Homo sapiens: one gene and its partners. The protein of the gene in region 5 purifies or fractionates together with the protein of the main gene of each other region. This does not show direct contact. Each region holds a gene or a part of one and is shown on either strand. Other genes may lie near its edges. The genes, in order: RDH11, SLC27A2, POR, UBAC2, ADIPOR2, RAP1B and LEMD3.

What was found.
Region 1: the proteins of ADIPOR2 (region 5) and RDH11 purify together in Homo sapiens (affinity purification with mass spectrometry, with the first as the bait; one study listed by BioGRID). This does not show direct contact.
Region 2: the proteins of ADIPOR2 (region 5) and SLC27A2 purify together in Homo sapiens (affinity purification with mass spectrometry, with the first as the bait; one study listed by BioGRID). This does not show direct contact.
Region 3: the proteins of ADIPOR2 (region 5) and POR purify together in Homo sapiens (affinity purification with mass spectrometry, with the first as the bait; one study listed by BioGRID). This does not show direct contact.
Region 4: the proteins of ADIPOR2 (region 5) and UBAC2 purify together in Homo sapiens (affinity purification with mass spectrometry, with the first as the bait; one study listed by BioGRID). This does not show direct contact.
Region 6: the proteins of ADIPOR2 (region 5) and RAP1B purify together in Homo sapiens (affinity purification with mass spectrometry, with the first as the bait; one large-scale study listed by BioGRID). This does not show direct contact.
Region 7: the proteins of ADIPOR2 (region 5) and LEMD3 purify together in Homo sapiens (affinity purification with mass spectrometry, with the first as the bait; one study listed by BioGRID). This does not show direct contact.

The regions. Positions count from the first base shown.
Region 1 is NC_000014.9:67,682,265-67,685,764, forward strand, and holds part of RDH11 (retinol dehydrogenase 11), read right to left. Parts: intron 2,941-3,500; coding exon 2,751-2,940; intron 1-2,750. UniProt on the Homo sapiens protein: Retinol dehydrogenase with a clear preference for NADP. Displays high activity towards 9-cis, 11-cis and all-trans-retinol, and to a lesser extent on 13-cis-retinol.
Region 2 is NC_000015.10:50,234,196-50,236,885, forward strand, and holds the end of SLC27A2 (long-chain fatty acid transport protein 2), read left to right. Parts: intron 1-1,724; coding exon 1,725-1,901; 3' UTR 1,902-2,190; downstream 2,191-2,690. UniProt on the Homo sapiens protein: Mediates the import of long-chain fatty acids (LCFA) into the cell by facilitating their transport across cell membranes, playing an important role in hepatic fatty acid uptake.
Region 3 is NC_000007.14:75,974,155-75,977,654, reverse strand, and holds part of POR (NADPH--cytochrome P450 reductase), read right to left. Parts: intron 1-3,500. UniProt on the Homo sapiens protein: This enzyme is required for electron transfer from NADP to cytochrome P450 in microsomes. It can also provide electron transfer to heme oxygenase and cytochrome B5.
Region 4 is NC_000013.11:99,242,354-99,245,853, reverse strand, and holds part of UBAC2 (ubiquitin-associated domain-containing protein 2 isoform 1 precursor), read right to left. Parts: intron 2,023-3,500; coding exon 1,903-2,022; intron 1,340-1,902; coding exon 1,230-1,339; intron 1-1,229. UniProt on the Homo sapiens protein: Restricts trafficking of FAF2 from the endoplasmic reticulum to lipid droplets.
Region 5 is NC_000012.12:1,781,570-1,785,069, forward strand, and holds part of ADIPOR2 (adiponectin receptor protein 2), read left to right. Parts: intron 1-1,442; coding exon of another isoform or gene 1,443-1,541; intron 1,542-2,310; coding exon 2,311-2,504; intron 2,505-3,500. UniProt on the Homo sapiens protein: Receptor for ADIPOQ, an essential hormone secreted by adipocytes that regulates glucose and lipid metabolism. Required for normal body fat and glucose homeostasis.
Region 6 is NC_000012.12:68,652,399-68,655,898, forward strand, and holds part of RAP1B (ras-related protein Rap-1b isoform 1 precursor), read left to right. Parts: intron 1-1,713; coding exon 1,714-1,854; intron 1,855-3,500. UniProt on the Homo sapiens protein: GTP-binding protein that possesses intrinsic GTPase activity. Contributes to the polarizing activity of KRIT1 and CDH5 in the establishment and maintenance of correct endothelial cell polarity and vascular lumen.
Region 7 is NC_000012.12:65,218,083-65,221,582, forward strand, and holds part of LEMD3 (inner nuclear membrane protein Man1), read left to right. Parts: intron 1-469; coding exon 470-537; intron 538-3,500.

The DNA of each region.
Region 1 (3,500 bases), on a different chromosome or scaffold from region 5:
GACTTCATCAAAATTTAAGTTTTACATTTCAAAAGATACCATTAAGAAAGTTAAAAGACAACCCACAGAATGAGAGAATATTTGCAAATTATATATCTGACAAGGAACTCGCATCTAGACTATTAAGAACTCTTGTAACTCAACAATAAAAAGACAATTATCCAACTTAAAAATGGGCAAAGGACTTGATAGACATTTCCCCAACAAAGAAACAAATGAACCAAAAAGCGCATGAAAGAATGTTCAACATCATTAGTAGGAAAATGAAATGAAAATAAAAACAAGATATTCCTTCATACTCACTAGGATGGCTAAACTCAAAAGGAGAGACAATAACAAGTGTTGCTGAGGATGTGAAGAAATTAGAATACTCATAGACTGCTGGTGGGAATGTAAAATGGGGCAGTCATTTTGGAAAAGTTTGGCAGTTCCTCAGCAGTTAAACACAGTTACCATATAACCCAGAAATTCCACTTCCATGTACCCAAGAGAAATGTCCACACAAAAATTTCTACACAAATGGTCACAGCAGTATTATTCAAATAGCTAAAAAGTGCAAACCCAAATGCCCATCACCTGATGAATGAATAAATAAGATGTGGCAAATCTATACAATGAAATGTTATCCAGCAATAAAAAGAAATGAAGTACTGACACATGCTTTAGCATGGATGACCCTTGATAACATTAAGCTGAGTAAAAGAAGTCAGTCACAAAAGGCCACATACCATATGATTCCATTTATATGAAATGTCCAGTAAAGGCAAATTCTTAGAGACATAAAGCAGACTAGTGGTTGCAGGCAGAAAGAAGAGCCAGTGCAAAAATCTTAAGGCTTCAATCAAAAGACTTTTATGTTCATTTCTTGATGGTGGTCTACACGGCTGCTGTTGGATCTTCAAAATGAATTAAGAATCCATAGCACAGGAAAGGCTCTTCAAAAGTCAATCCAATAGTAAGTTATGGATTTAGAGCTGACTTTCTTTAAACCACTCAGTCAAAACCAAGATAAAGGGTTATTTTTTTTTTTCTTAAAATCTCTAGGGAAGAAGAATCCAGTCACTCTTGGAAAATCAATCCAGTATACTATATAAATCTATCTTCTTATACTTCAGAACCACATTTCCAACTATCTGCTATACATTTCTACTTGCATGCCTTATAGATAACACACATGCAACATGTACAGAGCCAGGTTTGTTACACAGTGGACAACTGTTACTCTTTGGCTGAACATTCTACTTTGTTTCGGCAATAGCAACCTGATTTCCTTCTGCAGAATCACCTTTTCCCCTCAATATAGTTTGAAGAGAGCATTAATAAAGTCCCTGTTTGCCTCTAATCAAAAGAGTAAAAATGAAGGGATAGGAGGAAGGAGATCCAATGCTTCCTCCCTAGAGAATGGATGATAAGCAATACAACCTAAACACTAAAGATAGCTGGCATTCGCTCACTCTAGCAGCAATGCCCCGGCTGGCTGACTGCCACTCTGACACTTCTTAGCCTGGCTCTTCAGTCTTCCCTTTCAACCTAGGGGTCCCTCCTCTCCCTACTAATATTTTAATAAATTTCCTTCTTGCTTAAGCTAGACAAAGTCCCTTTCAACTGCTTTGGAATCCAAGAACCCTAAGTTCCACACATTACTTTTCCATGTCTGCTGTCTTAGTTAATGTCATCATCAACCTCATTCAGGCTTGAAATTCAGGTTAGCAAAGCCTCCCTCATCCCCTCATTTAATTAATCATCCAGTGATAAAAATTCTGCTGCTTCAGGGCCTCTTTCACATTACCATTCCTTTCATTACAACTTTCTGAAACTCTCTCTCTCACTAGGTTAATTATTCATTCATGAAACAAAGTTGCTAAAGCACAGACCAGATTTTGTCTGTCTACTGAAACAACTCTGGGGCTCCTCCACAAGGCTGGCATTATAGGCCTCTCATAATCTGTCTGCCTTTCTTTCCAATCTTAATGCTATTTTCAGCTACTTCCTTAAAATTTCAGGTCATTTCAACAATAACCTGAAGTAGAGGTAAAAACATGTTAAAATTTTGATCTTATGTGATGCCTGGGATTTGCTTCAAAATAATATGGGAGAAGAAAAATATGGAAAGGGGTAGAGAATGGGGATAGGGCAGAATTGGCCATGGGTTAATGGTAGCTGAGGCTCCATTATATGCAGGCTCAGTGCACTATTTTATCTAACCCTGTGTTATATTCAAAATTCTCTACATTTAAATCATTTTAAATGTCTTCGCTTATTTGAGAGGGGAGTCCATAGTATTTCAATCCTGAGGACAATAGAGAAATGCAGATTCAAATTCTTTTTTTTTTTTTTTGAGGCGGAGTTTCACCTGACCTTAGGTGATCTGCCCACCTTGGCCTCCCAAAGTGCTGAGATTACAGGCGTAAGCCACTGCGCCTGGCCTCAAATTCTTTTTAAATTCTTTTTAATGTAAAACAATAGAATTAGGAATCCAAAAAAGAATAAAGAAAACTGGACTGACATAACAAAGACAGGAAGAAAACAAACAGAATGCATAATTATCAGTATAAAAGATGGCATAAAATCAAATGTAGCAGTTATTACAAAAGAGAGTCAAATTCCCCTACTAAAAGGTAAAAACTCTAGAGTTAAAAGACAAAAGCTATATGAGACAATGTACTTTTAAAAAAGGGTATACCCAGACAAACCCAAATTATCTCCTTTGAGCAATAAATCTCATCTGCAAAAAGAGATAACATTCATACCTGAAATGATTCCCACTTAGAATCTCAAGACCTTCTGTTAAGGCACAGTGCAGGCTGGTCTGGGCTCCCTGCTGAGGAGTCTTGATGAAAAAGGAGAAAAGCCACCACATCCATCTCATGAAAGATGAGTGCCGAACCAGTTCAGATTGGACTGTGCCAGGGTGTACAGAATACGTCGTAACGCCAGAGCCTGGTTGGGGGTGGCATGAAGAGAGGGTAAGACAGGACTTGATTTTGCAGAATAGCCCAAAACAGAAAAGGATGTAAATAAGCATGTGACCTTCACATATGGACTCTTTTGCCCATGGTGACATCAGAAGTACTGCTCACAGTAATTTATACTTCCATCTCACAGATCTAAGAAGGCTCTAGAGTAGACAGTGCTAAGGACCTCTGTGTATTTCTGACTGGAAACTCAAGTCAGGAATCAGCAGAGCCAAGACTCATCCTCTCAGCAGCACTTAACATCGTTGACCACCCCCTTCTTTTTTAGAGATGGGGTCTCCCTATGTTGACCAGGCTGGTCTTGAACTCCTGGCATCAAACAATCTTCCCACCTTGGCCTCCCAAAGTATTAGGATTACAGGCATGAGCCACCACACCCACCCCATCCCCTTCATTTTTTTGAGACAGGCTTGCTGTGTTGCCCAGGCTGGAGTGCAGTGGCATGATCTTCCTTCTGCCACTGCCTTCCAGGTTCAAGCGATTCTCCTGCCTCAGCCTCCCAAGTAGCTGGGACTACAGGGGTGC
Region 2 (2,690 bases), on a different chromosome or scaffold from region 5:
AGCACTTTGGGAGGCCGAGGTGGGAAGATTGCTTGAGCTCAGGAGTTTGAGACCAGCCTAGGCAACGTAGTGAGACTTCATGTCTACTAAAAATGAAAATTTTTAAAAAAGGCCAAACGCGGTGGCTCACGCCTATAATCCTAACACTTTGGGAGACAGAGGCAGGTGGATCACCTGAGGTCGGGGGTTCGAGATCAGCCTGGCTAACATGGTGAAACCCGGTCTCTACTAAATAGACAAAATTAGCTGGGCGTGGTAGTGCATGCCTGTAGCCCCAGCTACTCGGGAGGCTGGGACAGGAGAATCGCTTGAACCTAGGAGGAGGAGGTTGCAGTGAGCTGGGATCACGCCACTGCACTCCAGCCTGAGCAATGGAGTGAGACTCCATCTCCAAAAAAAAAAAAAAAAAAAAAATTAGCCAGGCATGGTGATGTGCACTTGTAGTCTCATCTACGTGGGAGGCTGAGGCAGGAGGATTAGTTGAGCCTGGCAAATCAAGGCTGCAGTGAGGTATGATTGCACCACTGTACTCCAGCCTGGGCATCAGAGCAAGGCCCAGTCTAAAAAAAAATATATCAGAAAACAGCTAGAAGAAATCCAATCCTAATCCCTTTCTCCTTACAATGACAGGCCAGTTCATTCAGCAAGAGACTTAGCACATAACTCACAAAGTCTGTTTGGTGAGTCCTGACAGATAGCGCAAATAGAAATGCTCTGACCCTGTTTGTTGTTTCCAGTTTTAAAGAACACAGAAATCCACAGAAGTTCTACACCTTTCTGTGGTGTGAAATTTAATTGGACATTAGCCAGCTGGAATTGCCTAAGACTTAACTATCACCGCTAGGAGGATTTTTTTTCTTCCTCCAACATTAACCCTTTGGTTGGTTTAATACTCTCACTTTTAGACTTTGAGCTCTGTGATTCTGTAGCTGAAGACTTGACAAAGGAGGTCTTAAGATTCCAGATATTGTGTGTATAGGATTATTCCTGTTGATGTTCATAGGGCACCAACATTTGCTTTGCAACCAGATGGTAAAGTGGCATGAAAATGAAATATCCTCAGATATTTTGATTAACACATAATTGAAGGAAAAATCAGTCTTCAATCTAATCTAATAGACAAGCAGACTGAGAAAACAGAGTTGTCTGTAAATGATCCCTCCTTCTAATCCCACCATGAATCAGGATATCCTAGCGGTACCTGAAGCCTTACCAAGAAATAGGCACCACCCCTCTGCTCAGAAATCTATGCACAGGTATCTCATCCTTGGCAGGTCCTCCCTCCCCACAGGTGATCCTAAAGCTTTAAGGGAATAAAAAATACCTCACAAAGGGCTCCCTAATGGAGATCCTGCAAACAGAATGTATGGGTATCATATAAAACTTTCACTTCGCTAGAAAATGTAAAGAGTGGATGTTACTTGCCCCTACCACAAAAATGATATCTATATGAAGTAATCCATTTGCTAACTAGCCAAACTATTCCACGATGTATATGTACTTCAGCACATCATATTGTACATGAGAAAAACACACAATGTTATCTGTCCATTTAAAAATAAATTAAAATGGAAAACTTTATTTTAACTTTCACTTCCCAGCTCTCACATGAGCCAGGGATGCTAATGATTTGCTAGATCCCCATGCCCCACCCCTACCCCTTGCTCTGCATCCTAATCTATTGCAAAATGCAACCAAAATGTGGATTATTTGATGTTTTTCAGGACACCATTGAGATCACTGGAACTTTTAAACACCGCAAAATGACCCTGGTGGAGGAGGGCTTTAACCCTGCTGTCATCAAAGATGCCTTGTATTTCTTGGATGACACAGCAAAAATGTATGTGCCTATGACTGAGGACATCTATAATGCCATAAGTGCTAAAACCCTGAAACTCTGAATATTCCCAGGAGGATAACTCAACATTTCCAGAAAGAAACTGAATGGACAGCCACTTGATATAATCCAACTTTAATTTGATTGAAGATTGTGAGGAAATTTTGTAGGAAATTTGCATACCCGTAAAGGGAGACTTTTTTAAATAACAGTTGAGTCTTTGCAAGTAAAAAGATTTAGAGATTATTATTTTTCAGTGTGCACCTACTGTTTGTATTTGCAAACTGAGCTTGTTGGAGGGAAGGCATTATTTTTTAAAATACTTAGTAAATTAAATGAACACCAACATGTGAGATGGCACTGTCTCTGTGTTCTTTCCTCACTTTACTCTAAATACAAAGCCTGTGTCAATTACTCCAAAGCCTGAAGTCCTCACTGGTAACTTTTCATAGGTGTCCCATTCGTAAGAGTAAAGACGTTCTAGGTAAAAATGGCTGGGAACGGGGGGTGGGGTGAGGGATGGTAGGGTGAGGCGGCTAGATCAGCAGTGGCCAACACAATGGAAATCTACTCCAATGTGAGGAGGCCAACTTTCCCTACCCGGAGGCATCCTGTCCACTGTGTATAGGTAGCATTATCCAACAGGTAATAATGCCATCTATAGTCCTTACAGGAGCCTAATTCTATGGCATCAGAGTTCTGTACACAAAAGGTGTTCAGGCCGGGCTCAGTGGCTCACGCCTATAATTCTAGCACTTTGGGAGGCCGAGGCAGGTGGGTCACGAGATCAGGAGTTCAAGACCAGCCTAGCCAAGATGGTGAAACCCCATCTCTACTAAAAAAATACAAAATT
Region 3 (3,500 bases), on a different chromosome or scaffold from region 5:
AGGCACCCACCACTATGCTAGGCTAATTTTTTTGAATTTTTAGTAGAGACTGGGTTTCAACACGTTGGCCAGGCTGGTCTCGAACTCCTGACCTCAGGTGATCTGCCCACCTTGGCCTCCCAAAGTGCTGGGATTACGGGCGTGAGCCACCGCACCCAGCCACCTGAGGTATTTCTAATAGTTTTGGTAGCCAGACTGCAAGTTCCTAGTCCTGGCTACTGGCTTATGTGATGTTCAGAGGCAGCTGTAGAAGTAGCTTCTTATCCTGGATCACAGCTACACGTGGTGTGTCCTGAACTCAACAGTTTCAGGCTGCATTCGAACAGAGCAGCTACCTTGCAGGTTGCTTCTGTGATATCTTAGAGACCAACCTGCTCCTTCAGCCCCTCCAGTAACCTGGAAGTACCCCCTTCCCTGTGTGAAATCCCTTCCAGATTAAAATGCCTAAAGTAGTCTCTAGTTTTCACACTGAATCCCACCTCATACAAAATAAAACTTACGCGGCCGGGTGCCGTGGCTCACTTCTGTAATCCTAGTACTTTGGGAGGCCGAGGTAAGAGGATGACTTGAGCCCAGGAGTTTGAGACCAGCCTGGGCAACATGGCAAAACCCTGTCTCTACTAAAAATACAAAAAATTTATCTGGGTGTGGTGGCGCATGCCTATGGTTCTAGCTACTTGGGAGGCTGAGGTGGGAGGATCACTTGAGCCTGGGAGGTTGAGGCTGAAGTGAGCTGTGATTGAGCCACTGCACTCCAGCCTGGGTGACAGGAGTGAGACTGAGTCTCAAAACAAAACCACCACCAAAAAAAACTTAGGGATTACAATAAATGTTCTTATACTTTTTAAAGTTCCTGAATTTTCCACAAATCATTGTTAAATCATTAAAAATTGTTTTTTTTTTTCTTGAGACAGAGTTTTGCTCTTGTCGCCTAGGCTGGAGTGCAGTGGTGCGATCTCGGCTCACTGAAACCTCTGCCTCCTGGGTTCAAGCGATTTTCCTGCCTCAGCCTCCTGAATAGCTGGGATTACAGGTGTCCGTCACCATGCCTGGCTAATTTTTTGTGTTTTTAGTAGAGACAGGGTTTCACCATGTTGGTCCAGCTGGTCTCAAAGCTCCTGACCTCAGGTGATCCGCCCGTCTCAGCCTCCCAAAGTGCTGGGATTACAGACATGAGCCACTGCACCCGGCCAAAAGGATTTTTTTTTTTTTTAGATGGAATCTTGCTCTGTTGGCCAGGCTGGAGTGCAGTGGTGCGATCTTGGCTCAATGCAACCTCCGCCTCCCGGGTTCAAGTGATTCTCCTGCATCAGCCTCCCGAGTACCTGGGACTACAGGTGCATGCCACCACGCCCGGCTAATTTTTGTATTTTTAGTAGAGACAGGGTTTTCGCCCAAAAGGATATTTTAAAATAATCACCGTAAAAATACTTAATAGAAGAGAAAGTGCTCATGATTATCAGGTTAAGAGAACAAAAGATGACCTAAGATAGCAGCTAAATATTTACAGGAGCATCAAAATATATAAAATACCTAGAAATAAACTTTGTAAGAGATGTGTCAGAAGCTACTGAACTACACACAAAGGACTCACGCCAATGGAAAAGCACCCCGATTATGGACAGGGAGTCTCGACCCACAAAAATGGCAGCTCTATTTATGTCACTAGAGAAATGTGGCATGATGTAATAGAAATCTGAACCAGCTGGGTGCAGTGGCTCACACCTGTAATCCCAGTACCCTGGGAGGCCACACCAGGAGGACTGCTTAAGCCCAGGAGTTTGAGAACAGCCTGGGCAACAGAGTGAGACCCAGTCTCTACCAAAAAAAAAAAAAAAAATCTGAACAGCTTTTTTTTCCTCAACAAATTGATCCTAAAAGTCACGGAAAAATAAGTAAGAATCCATATATTAAAACATTATTTGGCAATAAAAAGGAAGTACTAACATATGCTACAGTGTGGGTGAACCTTGAACACGTTGCGCCCAGTGAAAAGAACCCAGAGACCCAGCTATTATTATTATTATTTGACACAGGGTGTAGCTGTTGCCCAGGTTTGAGTCCAGTGGTCACTGCAATCTGTGCCTCCCAAGCTCAAGCTATCCTCCCACTTCAGCCTCTCAGGTAGCGGGGACTATAGGTGCGCACCACTGTGTCCCACTAATTTTTCTATTTTTTGTGGAGATGGGGTTTCGCCATGTTGCCCAGGCTGGTCTCAAACTCCTGGGCTCAAGCGACCTGCCCATCTCGGCCTCCCAAAGTGTTGGGATTACAGGCATGAGCCACTGCGCCCAGCCCAGGAATTAAGTATATGATAAAGGTGGCATTTCAAACCAGTGGGGGAAAGATGGACTCTAATACATGGTGTTTAGACAGCTATGTAAAATGTAGAGTTGGATTCATACCTCACATCTTACATCAGGATAAATTCCCAATAGATCAGATTTTAAATTTTGAATATGAAAAACAAAACCCTAAAAGTACTAGAAAAAAAAAATACAGGAATATCTTTATCTCTTTAGCATGGGGAAGACCTTCAAATTATGACTCTAAGACCAGAAGTCACGAAAAGAAAGAATCATATAGGTGACTCTGTAACTTTTACACAGCAAAACAAATAAAAATGCGATCAGCTAGGTTGAAAGACAAACTTTTTTTTAAGAGATGGAATCTCACTAAAAGACAAACTCTTTAACGGGCAAGATATTTTCAACTTATATCACAGACAAGAGATTCATCTCCCTAATAATTTCAAGGAGAAAGATCAATCCCAACAGAAAAGCAGGCAAAAGATGTGAAGAGAGAATCTATTAAAAAAAGAAAAAAGAGGCTGGGTGCGGTGGTTCAGGCCTGTAATTCCAGAACTTTGGGAGGCCAAGTTGAGTGGATGACCTGAGGTCAGGAGTTCGAGACCAGCCTGGCCAACATGGCAAAACCCTGTCTCTACTGAAAATACAAAAGTTAGCCAGGCATGGTAGCACGCACCTGTAATCCCAGCTACTCAGGAGAATGAGGCATGAGAATTGCTTGAACCCGGGAGGTGGAGATTGCAGTGAGCTGAGATCACACCACTGCACTCCAGCCTGGGCAACAAAGCGAGACCCTGTCTCAAAAAAAAAAAAAAAAAAAAGAAAAGAAAAAAGAAAAAGAAACGAAGCCATCTAGACCTAGGTGGGTGAAAATCTACTGAATCTCATTCATAAAAATGTAAATTACAACTATACTGAGTTTTTTTTTTAAGCCTAGAAAACTGACAAAAATCTAAACTTTAATAACAAACTGTTGGCAAGGCTGTGGGGAACAGTTTTCTCACACGTCGCTATTCTTGAGCGCGTGCCACGGTGTGACTCCTACGGGGACGATTTGTAGCTTCTATCACGATTGCAAACACATCTACCTTCCAATCCAGCAATTCCACTTCTGGGACTGCTTTGTATTTGAAATGTGCAAACCGAGCTACATATTCACAGTGACATTGTTGGTAAGAGCCAAAGAGTAGC
Region 4 (3,500 bases), on a different chromosome or scaffold from region 5:
GGTATTTTGTTTGTTTTTTGAGGCGGAGTCTCACTCTGTCACCCAGGCTGAAGTGCAGTGGAGCGATCTCCGCTCACTGCAACCTCTGCCTCCCGGGTTCAAGTGATTCTTCTGCCTCAGCCTCCTGAGCAGCTGGGACTACGTGCCACCACGCCCAACTAATTTTTGTATTTCTAGTAGAGATGGGGTTTCACCATATTGACCAGGCTGGTCTTGAACTCCTGACCTCGTGATCCGCCCACCTCGGCCTCCCAAAGGTGGCATGAGCCACCGCGCCCGGCCTGTTTTTTTGTTTGTTTGTTTGAGATGGAGTCTCGTTCTGTCAACTCTACTCCTAGATTCTAGTTATTTCACACACTAATACATGGTTTTTGTTTTTTTTAAAGAAGATCAACGCAATATGAAAGCATACAAATTCTGAGTGGGGTTGGCCACGGCAGGTTGTCTACAAAGTTATAACCTATACACCGGCTTTGTTTTATGTTTGATGGAAGTGTTTAAACATTATCAGCTTTTAAAAAATTATTCTTCAGAAGCTTAACTTCGTACAAATTAATTTTGTTTCCTAATCTAATTAAACTATATTTTTGTGTTTAGTTCATAAAATTACAAAGACAAATTTCACTATAAAAACACACAAAACTAATTCTATCAGGATCAGAATAGGAAATTCACTTAAAATTCTCTAAAACACAAACTTTCAAAGCTAAAAAAAGAAGGTGCCTGGGCAAGGTGGCTCACACAGTGGCTCAAGCACTTTGGGAGGCCGAGGCGGGTGGATCACCTGAGGTCAGGAGTTCAAGACCAGCCTGGCCAACATGGTGAAACCCTGTCTCTACTAAAAAATACAAAAATTAGCCAGGCATGGTGGCACGTGCCTGTAGTCCCAGCTACTTGGGAGGCTGAGGCAGGAGAATCGCTTGAACCCGGGAGGCGGAGGTTGTAGTGAGCCGAGATCGTGCCAATGCACTCCAGCCTGGGTGACAGAGCGAGACTCCGTCTCAAAAAAAAAAAAAGTAAAATAAATTTTAAAGAAAGAATATAAAATTGATTCTATTTCAAGAACATAATAAAAATGTAGGCATAGATTAGACTTTTTACATATAAAATCAATTTAACTATATCTAGAAGTTTAAAATATTATTTTACTGACTTTCACATAATAATAATAACACTTTAAATCAGATTCAAGTAGTTCTAAATTAAGTCAATCTTTAAGTGCTACTTACAATCCAGAAGGCAAATTACTAGCTGCAGTGATGCCAAAGAAATACTGCATAGCTTCAATGAGGAGAAAGTCAAATAAGGCTGACAAAACCCAGGAACCCAGCAAAAAGGACTACAAAATAAAACAGCAGAAAAATGATAGAGATGAGTCTCCTAAAAATAAACTAACATTTATTCAGCTAGAATCAGCTCAGAGGTGTGTATTCATATGTATGTGTGTGTGTGTATATACACACATGCATATGTGTGTATATATATTTGAAATTATTTGTTTTTATTAAAATAGACTTTAGAAAATGGGCGGGGTAAACCCATATTGCTCAAATGTATTAACAGCCATAATTTTTAAGTATGTTGAAGATATATTTTTAACAAGTAAAACACAAACCACTAAGCAAAATAAATTATAATTTTATTAAAGTCAAAGTATTAAAATTTGTATTAGTGTTCACAACTAATACTACATATTATCATTATCACTATTATTATTATGCTAATGTCTTACATTTTAAAATTTTCTTTGGTTAATGTCCATGTGCCTCAAATCAGATACAGAATAGTGTAATTAAAAAGATAACTGTAAATAACAACACCAAGTTTAACAAAATAAAATCCATTTAAACAAAATTTTTTTCTACAGCCTAAGTAGCAAAGACAAAATACATAAAAACTTACTGCAAATTTTCTGCTTCCATATCTTCTTTCAAATATCCTAAAATTATAAATAAGCAGACTACTGCAGAAAGTATCTTTCAAATCAAGGCAAATTATTCTTCCACATATCAACCTCCAAATCTAGATGGGGATTTAAAAAAGAACAATAAACAAGAGTAAAATTTGTTCGGGTCTCTTCCTTAGCAAATTTGTTATGTTTACACTGCCTATTTTTAATGTCCTAAACAAAATCATAATGCACACACCAAAGGAAAACTATATATGTATGTTCTCTGAGCTCAAGTCTCTCATAGTAAAAATTCCTCCCAACAGTGGCACGAAAGGTACTTGAATTTTTTTGTGCTTATAAGAAAACATATTCTCATTAAGATAACAGAAAACTGCCTATAAGAAATTTCAGGATCACGTTTAGTAAGATTTTTTAAAATTATATACGTAAACTAGAATGAAAGGCTAACAAATGTTCATTTTTATGTTATTGAATAAGACAAAGTTGTAACTGAAAAACAACTTAGGTATAAACTCAAAAATATGCATTTCTGAGCTTAATTTTAATCATCAACTTACTTCATAGCAACTATGCAAAGTAATTTATGGCAACTGCTGCTAAATATGACTAGGTTTGAAATATTAGTTTATTTAAATCATTGTTTCACCCAACTTCTGGCTGCATAAAAAACATATAAGGGGACATACAAAAAAAAAAAAAAAAAAAAAAGAGCTACTCAAAGGCCTATTTTTGAGTCTGCTTAAACATTTTTCAGATTTTTAAAGATAATCCCAATGACATCTCAAACATCCTAATCTTATTTCCCCTTCACAATGACCTTATGAGATAGGTAAAACAAATATTAATTCCAACTTTTCTTTGTATTTTTATTGTGGTAAAACAGATATAAAAGTTAAAATTTTGCTGGCTGCCCAGTCTGGAAAGTGAGGAGCGTCTCTGCCCGGCCGCCATCCCATCTAGGAAGTGAGGAGCGCCTCTTCCCGGCCGCCATCCCATCTAGGAAGTGAGGAGCGTCTCTACCCGGCCGCCCATCGTCTGAGATGTGGGGAGCACCTCTGCCCCGCCGCCCCGTCTGGGAGGTGAGGAGCGTCTCTGCCCGGCCGCCCCGTCTGAGAAGTGAGGAGCCCCTCCGCCCGGCAGCCACCCCGTCTGGGAAGTGAGGAGCGTCTCCGCCCGGCAGCCACCCCGTCCGGGAGAGAGGTGGGGGTCAGCCCCGGCCAGGCCAGCCGCCCCGTCGGGGAGGGAGGTGGGGGGGGTCAGCCCCCCGCCCGGCCAGCCGCCCCGTCCGGGAGGGAGGTGGGGGGGTCAGCCCCCCGCCTGGCCAGCCACCCCGTCTGGGAGGTGAGGGGCGCCTCTGCCCGGCCGCCCCTACTGGGAAGTGAGGAGCCCCTCTGCCCGGACAGCCGCCCCGTCCGGGAGGGAGGTGGGGGGGGCAGCCCCCCGCCCGGCCAGCCGCCCCGTCGGGGAGGGAGGTGGGGGGGTCAGCCCCCCGCCCGGCCAGCCGCCCCGTCTGGGAGGTGAGGGGCGCCTCTGCCCGGCCGCCCCTACTGGGAAGTGAGGAGCCCCTCTGCCCGGACAGCCGCCCCGT
Region 5 (3,500 bases):
GGATAAAGGGGCTTTTTATATTTAGGATAATGCCTGTTTAGCTGGAGATCATAGAGAAAGCCACAAGCCCCTCAGTGCCTTGGCTGAGTCTTCTTGTAGGACATGGAATTAGCAGAGATGTTCTTGTCTCCTACTCAGTGTCAAGCTCAGTGCCCACTGAGAATGAACAAGGAGTGTTTTTCCTTTCGTCCTTAAACCCCCAAAACCATTTAGTATTAAAATCTAAACCCTGGATCATCCGGGGGTACCTGGAAGGTTAGACACAGAAGTAACCTCATGTCAGTGACCACTGTTAAAACACTCTGCCGTCCTCCTTTTTGTGTTCATATGAGCAAATGAGCATTGGTCAGGGTCAGCTTTCAACAGTACTTGAGTAGTACAGTGGTGTTAAGCCTGCTTGAGCACATGAGATAAGAATGTCTTTGCTGAGTACAGCTGAGCATTCTGTTATTTACATACATCAGAAGAACCAAATTCCTGAGCCTTTGACTTAGAGAATGATAGGCAGAAACCATTAGCAGCCTTTGCTTAGCATGTAGAGGAAAAGAAAAAGTGAATAGTGCAAAAGTCTAGCAAATCTTTCCTTAGAGGAGCAGAGGTAGGAAATAGTTTTTCTTTAGGTCTGCTTGGTTCTTACCTGTTGTGAGAGCAGCATTGCCATTTTCCTCTTCTCTTTTAGATGTCCATTTTATTTGTGAGTATGCATCCCATAGCTGTGCTTACATATATTGCTGTATACCAGCAGTTTATTTGGTAATGTCCAAAGCAAGTAATAGGTTCTTTATCTGTTGAGAAAGCTTACCAAATGACAGCTTGTTTTGCAAGGGTCATTGTTAACTCTGTGTCAAAATGTAGGAGCAGTTACTGGCAGAGGCAGGGAGCTCCTGTGTTGCTTTGGCTGATACACGGGTTTCAAAGTGGATTTAGATCAGTGGACTTCACATTTTTTTTTCCATCATGACATTTTCTATTACAGTCCTGAACACGTGTATCTATACATAAGTTCATGTATATATAAATTACAAAACTTTAACAAAATAGTATTTAATCCTCCACGTATGTTACAGTCTGATATTTTAAATTTTATTCTAGTTCATTTAAAAAAATGCTGGTTGAGACTCATTTAATTGATCTTAGAACTTAGGTCATATCCAGAAGTTTAAAAAAACATTAGATGCTTCTGGAGGCAGTAAGGCAGTAGGGCTGTGGCTGAGTGATTTGCTAGACTTTTGTACTTGATTGCTATTTAGGGGTCTGGGAGCTTATAGTATTCTCTCCCATCCCCCACCCCCATTAGGTCATTTGTTAAAGGCATTTAACAATTTTTAAGTGCCCAGTTATAGGTTATAGATTTAGATTAAATTTTTTCTTCTTTTTTCTTTTCTTTTCTTTTTCTTTCTTTCTTTCTTTTTTTTTTTTTTTTTTTTTTTTTTGAGATGGAGTCTTGCTTTGTAGCCCAGGCTGGAGTGCAGTGGTGCCATCTTGGCTCCTGACCTCAAGTGATCTGCCTGCCTCGGCCTCCCAAAGTGCTGGGATTACAGGTGTGAGCTGAGCCACTGCGCCCAGCCTTAGATTCCTATTAAAAATAGGTGATGCCAGGTGATGTGATCATTCATCGCCTCTCCACCCCAACAACGCCTGCTGCTTCAAAGAGAAGATGGGATACGTAAAATTGCTTGTATTGTAACCTGTGTCTGTAGAAGGACAGGCTAGGACAGTTTAAATAAACTCCTGGAGCTGTCCTTTCCGAAAACATTTAGCAACATTAATTCAAAACCCTTGAAGACTGCTGACTTACTAAGCTAAGCCTCTCTTAGTGAGGCTCATTGCTTTTTTTTTTTTTTTTTGAGACGGAGTTTCACTCCTGTTGCCCAAGCTGGGGTGCAATGGCGTGATCTCGGCTCACTGCAGCCTCTGCCCCCGGCTTCAGGTGATTCTCCTGCCTCAGCCTCCCGAGTAGCTGGGATTACAGGAGTGCGCTACCACGCCTGGCTACTTTTTGGATGTTTAGTAGAAATGGGGTTTCACCCTGTTAGCCAGGCTGGTCCCAAAGTGCTGGGATTACAGGTGTGAGCCACTGCACCCGGCTGGCTCCTTGCATTTGTAAATCTTTAGAACATAGCTGTGTTGTCTTGTGTGACAGTGTCCCAGAGTTTGAAGAACCTTCTTTTTCCTTTAAAACTGGAAGCTAATTTTATATGCTACTTTGAAATATTCAGTTTACAGAGTTAATGGTGCTGTGCTGTAATACTGACTTCTGGCTCTTTGTTTCTCTTCTGCATTACTTTACTCTCTTCTTGTGACTCCTAGGAGTGTTTTTGGGCCTAGGCCTGAGTGGAATCATTCCTACCTTGCACTATGTCATCTCGGAGGGGTTCCTTAAGGCCGCCACCATAGGGCAGATAGGCTGGTTGATGCTGATGGCCAGCCTCTACATCACAGGAGCTGCCCTGTATGCTGCCCGGATCCCCGAACGCTTTTTCCCTGGCAAATGTGACATCTGGGTAAGTATGTCGGGGTGACTGAGTGTGTAGGTATCTGCTCATGAGTTATTGGCATCCTGCAGAGTGATGCAATAGAAAAAGTTTTAGACACAAAGTCAGGAGAGTTGTATCCTGGTCCTAACTCCCTATTGAGCTTTCTCTGGACAATAAGTACAATAATAACTAACATTTAGTGAGCACTTCCTTGGTGCTCAGCATGGTACAGAGTGCTTTGCACGGATTACCTCATTACATACATTAGCCCTATGTGGTATGATAACTCTTGTTAATGTCTTCATTTTACAAAGCAGGAGACTAAGGCTTAGGGAGGTGAGGCCACTTGTCCAAGCCATGTGGCTATTTAAGTGGTAGAACAGGAATTTGAATTAGGCTAGTTTTAATATCAGAATCTGTGCTCTTTTTGACAATGGCAAGTCATTTTGCCATTCTTTGTCTCAGTTTCCTTATTTATGAAATGAGGATGATAGACCAGATTTTCACCAGAGCCCTTTTTAGGACCAGATTTCTATCAGGGTCTTTTTTTATACCGAAATTTAGTGATTTGTAATGGGAGACTGAGTGTATGTATGTCTGGTGGAAGAAGAGGGATTGTGAAGAAGAGGGAACTGGATTGAACTGGATTGTGGTCATTGGTAAGAGAGGAGGAAAGAGAAGAGGGAAAAGAAAATATAAGGACTGATATAGATAGAAAAACTTATAACCAAAGAGGGCCTGAAATATTTTCAACAAGACAACATTGGAAATACGCTTAATGTGAAATCTGACCTTTGTAATTCTGTTCCTCAGCCTATTGCTGATTATTATAGACTAACCTGATGATCTCATCTCTTTAAAGTTTAGTTTAGCTATCTGTAAAATGAAGATGATCTTGAACTTAAGCAATCTTTCTAGCTTCAAATTAGCTAATTTATCTTTCTGATTCATCATCATCATTTTAACATTGGTATGGAGGGGTTTTTGCCCTTTATCCCCTTTCTTTGGGGGAAATTAATCCCC
Region 6 (3,500 bases), about 67 Mb from region 5:
CTGTGGAGATTGTGCCACTGCATTCCAGCCTGGGTGACAGAGCGAGACTCTGTGTCAAAAAAAAACATAAGACTACTAGTTGCTAAACTTTAAATCTTTTTGTTGTTGTTCCGTTGAATCCTTAATTTTATATTGGCCGGGCGCAGTGGCTCACGCCTGTAATCCCAGCACTTTGGGAGGCCAAGGTGGGTGGATCACTTAAGGTGAGGAGTTCAAGGCCAGCCTGGGCAACACAGTGAAACCCCGTATCTACTAAAAATATAAAAAAAATTAGCCGGGCGTGGTGTTACACACCTGTAATCCCAGTTACTTGGGAGGCTGAGGCAGGAGAATAGCTTGAACCCGGGAGGCGGAGGAAGTATATTGCACTTTTTGTAATTGCAGTGGGTCAGTTATTGAAAAGTTTAGAAAATGTGTTAGAAGAAAAATTTTCAGTCTCACTAGTACTTTTAAAACAATATATTACCATATTTCAAATAATACAGGCATACATTCATTCATCAGCAGCTGTGTGAAATATTTTGATTGAGCTGGGTATGATGGCTCATGCCTTGTAATCCCAGCACTTTGGGAGGTCAAAGGGGGGTGGATCACCTGAGGTCAGGAGTTCAAGACCAGCCTGGCTAACATGGTGAAACCCGTCTCTATTAAAATACAAAAATTAGCCAGGTGCAGTGGCAGGCACCTGTAGTCCCAGCTACTCGGGAGGCTGAGGCAGGAGAATCGCTTGAACCCTGGAGGTAGAGGTTGCAGTGAGCTGATAACACACCACTGCACTCCAGCTTGGGTGACAGAGTGAGACTCCATTTCAAAAGAAAAAGAAATATTTTGATTGGTATCTGTTCTCCTTCAACGTATTTATAGACAAACTAAATTTGTAGGTATGTGAAGATGAAGGGAAGATTTGTTCTCGGTGTATGGTATTCATTCAGCTAATGTTTGAATACCTGATACATGTCAGGCACTGTGTTGTTACCTTCAAATGCTCACAGTCTAGCAAAGAAAAAGTAGTGTGGGAAAATGGGATGGTCTAGATCATGCTGATGGAGCCCTACAGAACTACAGCATTTGAGTCATAGCTAATAGATTAACTTGGCAGATACAGTTGGGGTGCTTTATACATGATGATGTATTTTAAAAGCTGCCTTTAGTAACTTTTGGGGACAGGATATTTCTGTTCCACTTGAGTATATTTTTTGTATATAAATCGACTTTGGTGTATTGTTTTTAAATAGGAAACCTATTTCCAGCTGGGCGTGGTAGTTCACGCCTGTAATCCCAGCACTTTGGGAGGCCGAGACGGGCAGATCACAAGGTCAGGAGATGGAGATCATCCTGGCTAACATGGTGAAAGCCCGTCTCTACCGAAATACAAGAAAAAAATTAGCCGGGCATGGTGGTGTGCGCCTGTTGTCCCAGCTACTCGGGAGGCTGAGGCAGGGGAATCACTTGAGCCCGGGAGGCAGAGGTTGCAGTGAGCCGAGGTCGCGCCACTGCACTCCAGCGTGGTGACAGAGCAAGACTCCGTCTCAAAAAAAAAAAGAAACTAAAATGCCAATTTTTTCAAATAGTATCTTGTCATAGATTATAATTTTAACAAAGTTACATAATACTACAGTATTCTTCATTGAGCTATAATTATAGACTGTGAAAATTGTAAAAATAACTGTCAAAACATTATTGTTTTTTAACGTTCCTTTCTTTCTATTGTAGGAGCAATTTACAGCAATGAGGGATTTATACATGAAAAATGGACAAGGATTTGCATTAGTTTATTCCATCACAGCACAGTCCACATTTAACGATTTACAAGACCTGAGAGAACAGATTCTTCGAGTTAAAGACACTGATGATGTAAGCTGACTTCCAAATAAATATATTTTATTTCAAAACCCTGATTATAATTGTTTAAGTCTAAATTTAAATTCATTTTAAAGCTTGTGTATTTTGGTTGGGGGGGGGGTGTTGGTTTTTTTAAACTTTTTCCTTGAAAGGCAAAAATACCCATACATGTTTTCAAATATATATCATGTGGAAAGTGAGAAATTTCCTCCTTTGCCATTATCCTGTGAAAATTAAATGTTACACCCTTCCTTTTTTTTTTTTCCTTTGAGATGGAGTCTTGCACTGTTGCCCAGGCTGAAGTGCTGTGGTGCGATAGCTGTACCTCCCGGGTTCACGCCATTCTCCTGCCTCAGCCTCCCGGGTAGCTGGGACTACAGGCGCCTGCCACCATGCCCAGCTAGTTTTTTGTATTTTTAGTAGAGACAGGGTTTCACCATGTTAGCCAGGATGGTCTCGATCTCCTGACCTTGTGATCCGCCTGCCTCAGCCTCCCAAAGTGCTGGGATTTTAAAGGCAAGAAATACATTAGATTCTAACATTATTAATTTAGGTGCCCCTTCAGAGTCTACCATAATGGAGTTTAATTCCTCATCACACTAAATATAGCAGTGGTTCTCAAAATTGATTTTGCATCAGAATCACCTGTAGGACCAGTTAAAACAGATTGCTGGGCTGAGATCTCAGAGCTTCTGATTCAGTAGGTCAGCAGTAGGACCCAGGAATTTGCATTTCTAACAAGTTTCGAAGTGGTGTTGGTTTTGCTGATCTGCATACTGTAAGAACCAGGCTGGGCATGGTGGCTCACACCTCTAATCCCAGCACTTTGGGAGGCCAAGGCGGGTAGATCCCCTGAGCTCAGGAGTTCAAGACCTCCCTGGGCAACATAGCAAAACCCTGCCTTTACCAGAAATTTAAAAAAAAAAAAATTAGCCAGCATGGTGGCGCGTGCCTGTGGTCTCAGCTATTTGGGAGGCTGAGGTGGGAGGATCACTTAAGCCTGGGAGGTGGAGGTTGGCAGTGAGCTGAGATCACATCACTGCACTCCATCTAGGGTGACATAGTGAGACCCTGTCTCAAAATAAATACATAAATAAGACTCATTGTACTGCAGTTTAATTTTAGCAAATATTGTGAGAGCTGGGAGACACCCATGGTAAATGCTTTTATTTTCTGGACTTCTGAAACAAGGGAATTTGGGGGGACCCTACATAATTACAGCAACCTCAGGGAACATTTTTTAATTTGTAAATCCATTTAATAAGTGGCTTGATTTTTAGTAAATTTTGATTGGCTTTTTTTTTTTTTTTTTTGAGACGGAGTCTCACCCTGTCGCCCAGGCTGGAGTGCAATGGCACGATCTCAGCTCACTGCAACCTCTGCCTCCCAAGTTCAAGCAATTCTCCTGTGTCAGCCTCCCAAGTAGCTGGAATTACAGGCGTGTGTCACCATACCCAGCTAATTTTTGTGTTTTTAGTAGAAACAGGGTTTCGCCATGTTGGCCAGGCTGGTCTCCAACTCCTGACCTCAGGTGATCCACCCGCCTCGGCCTCCCAAAGTGCTGGGATTACAGGCGTGAGCCACTGTGCCTGGCCTTGATTGACTTTTTTAATACAAGACTATGAGAAACTAAAAATTCTATTTTGGGAGCCTTCCGT
Region 7 (3,500 bases), about 63 Mb from region 5:
TATTTGAACCCTTAAATGATTAGCTTTAAGAATAGATGTGTAAGTTAAGTTAGCACAATGAATATGCTGAATTTTTTCCCTTTTAGGAATAATACATATTTCTGGAGGGCGTCTTGTGTGCCAAGATCTGTGGATAGGCATCAGTGTGACATAGTTCCTATACCAGCTTACAGTTTAGTTGGGAATATAAGAGGAAGATAAGTTCTTGTTTGGACTGAAATGCATTTAAAAGTTGTGGTTAATGTAATGGTAGTTGTTTGTTTATATTCTTACTGGAATTTCTTTGTTTATATTCTTACTGGAATTTCTTCTAGAAATTATAAATAATATTGTTCATGTTCTTTCTTTACTGATTATAATAATATAACCTGTAATTGTATAATGTATAAAATATTTGAATTAATTATGTTTGTTTTCTTCTGTTTAAGAGAGTACTGATTCAAAATTAATAATATGCTAATCTTTCCAGGAGATCATGAATGTGGCAGTTCTAGTCAAAGAACGCTTTCTGTTCAAGAGGCAGCTGCGTATTTAAAAGTAAGCAATGAAATTAGAATTTTAATAGCTATATTTTAAAAAATTATATAAATCATTGCTACTTGTAAGAATCATATGTTTGATTATTTTAATTGTACTGTTAAAAGCTTGGGCCTGCTGTTTGGTATAATATGAGCAGTTATGAGAAAGTAAAATTGTTCAACTTTTTTTTTTTTTTTTTTTTTGTGAGACACAGTTTCGCTCTTGTTCCCCAGGCTGGAGTGCAATGGCTGATCTCGACTCACTGCAACGTTCGCAACCGGGGTTCAAGCGATTCTCCTGCCTCAGCCTCGCGAGTAGCTGGAATTACAGGCACCCACCACCTCGCCCAGCTAATGTTTTTTGTATTTTTAGTAGAGATGGAGTTTCACTATGTTGGCCAGGCTGGTCTCAAACTCCTGGCCTCAAGTGATCTGCATGCCTTGGCCTCCCAAAGTGCTGGGATTATAGGCGTGAGCCACCTGTTCAATTTTTTTTAGTTTGTTTTAGAACATTCTCTATGAGAGAATGCATATTAATTTGGAAAGGGTACAAAGAAACATTGGTCATAGGGAAATTGAGATAGGTGAGTAGTAGCATGTAAGAGAGCAGGTAAATATCTAACCATTTATTTAAAATCTTCTGTCCCACATCAGTTTCTTCTCCAAATACTAAGAGAACTTGCTGTTGAATTTTCTAAACTACTGTAAATAATTTCTGGAAAATCTTAATGAAAGGTAGTAAAAGATTAAAGATGGATAAATGTCATTCTGATTTCTCAGAAGTGGAAAGTGGCATTTGAAAACCATACAGGAAAGCTTGTTGTCGGTCCAGTTCCATAAAGATAATTTCATAAAGATCTGAGTTCTTGCAAATGGAAACGTTGATCCCTGGAAGGTGGCTGGCATTTGAACGTGGACAAGTCATGCCATACAAATTTCATGCCTCCCATCCCCTTGTTAAAATTGTGGTAAAAAATATATAACGTGAAATCTGTTAACATATTTTTAAGTATACCGTACAACTATATGTGCATTCTTATACAGCAAATCTCTAGAACTTCTTCATCTTGTATGACTGAAACTCTATAGCCATTGCACAGCAGGCCCCCGTTTTCCTCTGCTCCATATCCCTGGCAACCACCATTTTACTTTCTTCCTCCATCAGTGTGATTAACAGATACCTCATATAAGTTGAATCCTGCAATTTTTGTCCTGTGACTGGCTTATTTCACCTAGCATAATATCTTCAAGTTTCATCCATATTGTAACATGACAGTACTTCCTTCATTTTTTAAGGCTGAGTAGAATTTCATTGTATGTATACATATATTTTCTTTATCCAGTCATGTTGATGGGCTTTTAGATTGTTTCCACCTCTTGGCTATTGTGAATAATTCATCAATGAACATGGCAATGCAAGTACTTCTTTGAGACTCTACTTTTAATTCTGTTAGACAAATACCTAGAAGTGGGATTGATAGATAATATGGTAGTTCAACTTTTTATTTTTTGAGGAACCTCCATACTGTTTTCATATTGACTGTACCATTTTACATTCTTTCCAATAGTATAGTAGGATTCCAGTTTCTGCCTATCCTTAACACTTATTTGCCTTATAGCTCACTGTGTTTTTATTTGTGTTTCCCTGATGATTACTGATGTTGAGCATCTTTTCATATACCATTTATATACATATACATCTGTGTGTATATATAGCATGTATACAGCATATATATAATACCTTATCTGTTGGCCATTTGTATATCTTCTTTGGAGAAGTGCTATTCAAGTTCTTTGCTGATTTTTAAGTTGGGTTATTTATTTTGTTATTGAATTGTGGGGGTTTCTTATGCATTTTGCATATTAACCCCTTGTCAGATATATGGTTTGCAAATATTTTCTCCCATTCTGTAGGTTACTTTTTCACTGTATTCACTGTTTTTTTTTACTGCACATATGCTTTTTAGTTTGATGTAGTCCCACTTTTCTGTTTTTGCTTTTGTTGCCTATGCTTTTGGTGTCATGTCCAAGAAATTATTGCCCATATCAACGTCAAGAAGCTTTTCTTCTATGTTTTCTTCAAGAAGTTATATAGTTTCAGGTCTTACATTTAAGTCTTTAATCCATTTGGAGTTGATTTTTGTGTACGGTATAAGATAAAGGTCCAGTTTGATTCTGTTGCATGTGGAAATCCAGTTTTCCTAGCACCATTTATTGAAGAGATTGTCATTTCTCCATTGTGTAGTCTGGCACCCTTGTAGAAGATTGTTGGATCATACATCAGTGGCTTTATTTCTGGTTCTCTATTTTGTTCCACTGGTCCATTTATGTCTATTATTATGCTAGTACTATACTGTTTTGATTACTATAGTTTTGTCATATGTTTTAAAGTCAGTGTGAGGCCTTTGTGGTTCCATATGGATATTAGGATTATGTCTTCTATTTCTGCAAAAAATGCTATTGGGATTTTGTATTGCTGTATTGCCTTCGGTGGTATAGTAATTTGAGTAATATTAAGTCTTCCAATTCACGAACATGAGATGTCTTTCTATTTATTTGTGTCTTTTATTTCATTCAGCTTTTTTTTTTTTTTTTGTAGTTTTCAGTGTATAAGTCTTTCACCTCCCTGGTTAAGTTTATTCCTAAGTATCTAAATCTTTCTAATGCTATTATAAATGGGATTATTTTCTTAACCTCCTTTTCAGATTGTTGTTAGTGTATAGAAATGTAACTGATTTTTGTATATTGATTTTATATCTTCCAACTTAGCTGAATTTGTTTATTCTAACAAGATTCTTTTTAGTAGAGATAGGGGCCTTGCTATGTTGCCCAGGCTGGTCTCAAACTCCTGGGCTCAAGTTATCCTCCTGCCTTGGCCTCCTAAAGCACGGATTACAAGCATGAGCCACCACACCCAGCCAAATAACAAGATTTTTTTGGTGAAATCTTTAGGGCTTTCTATGTATAAGATTATGTCACTTG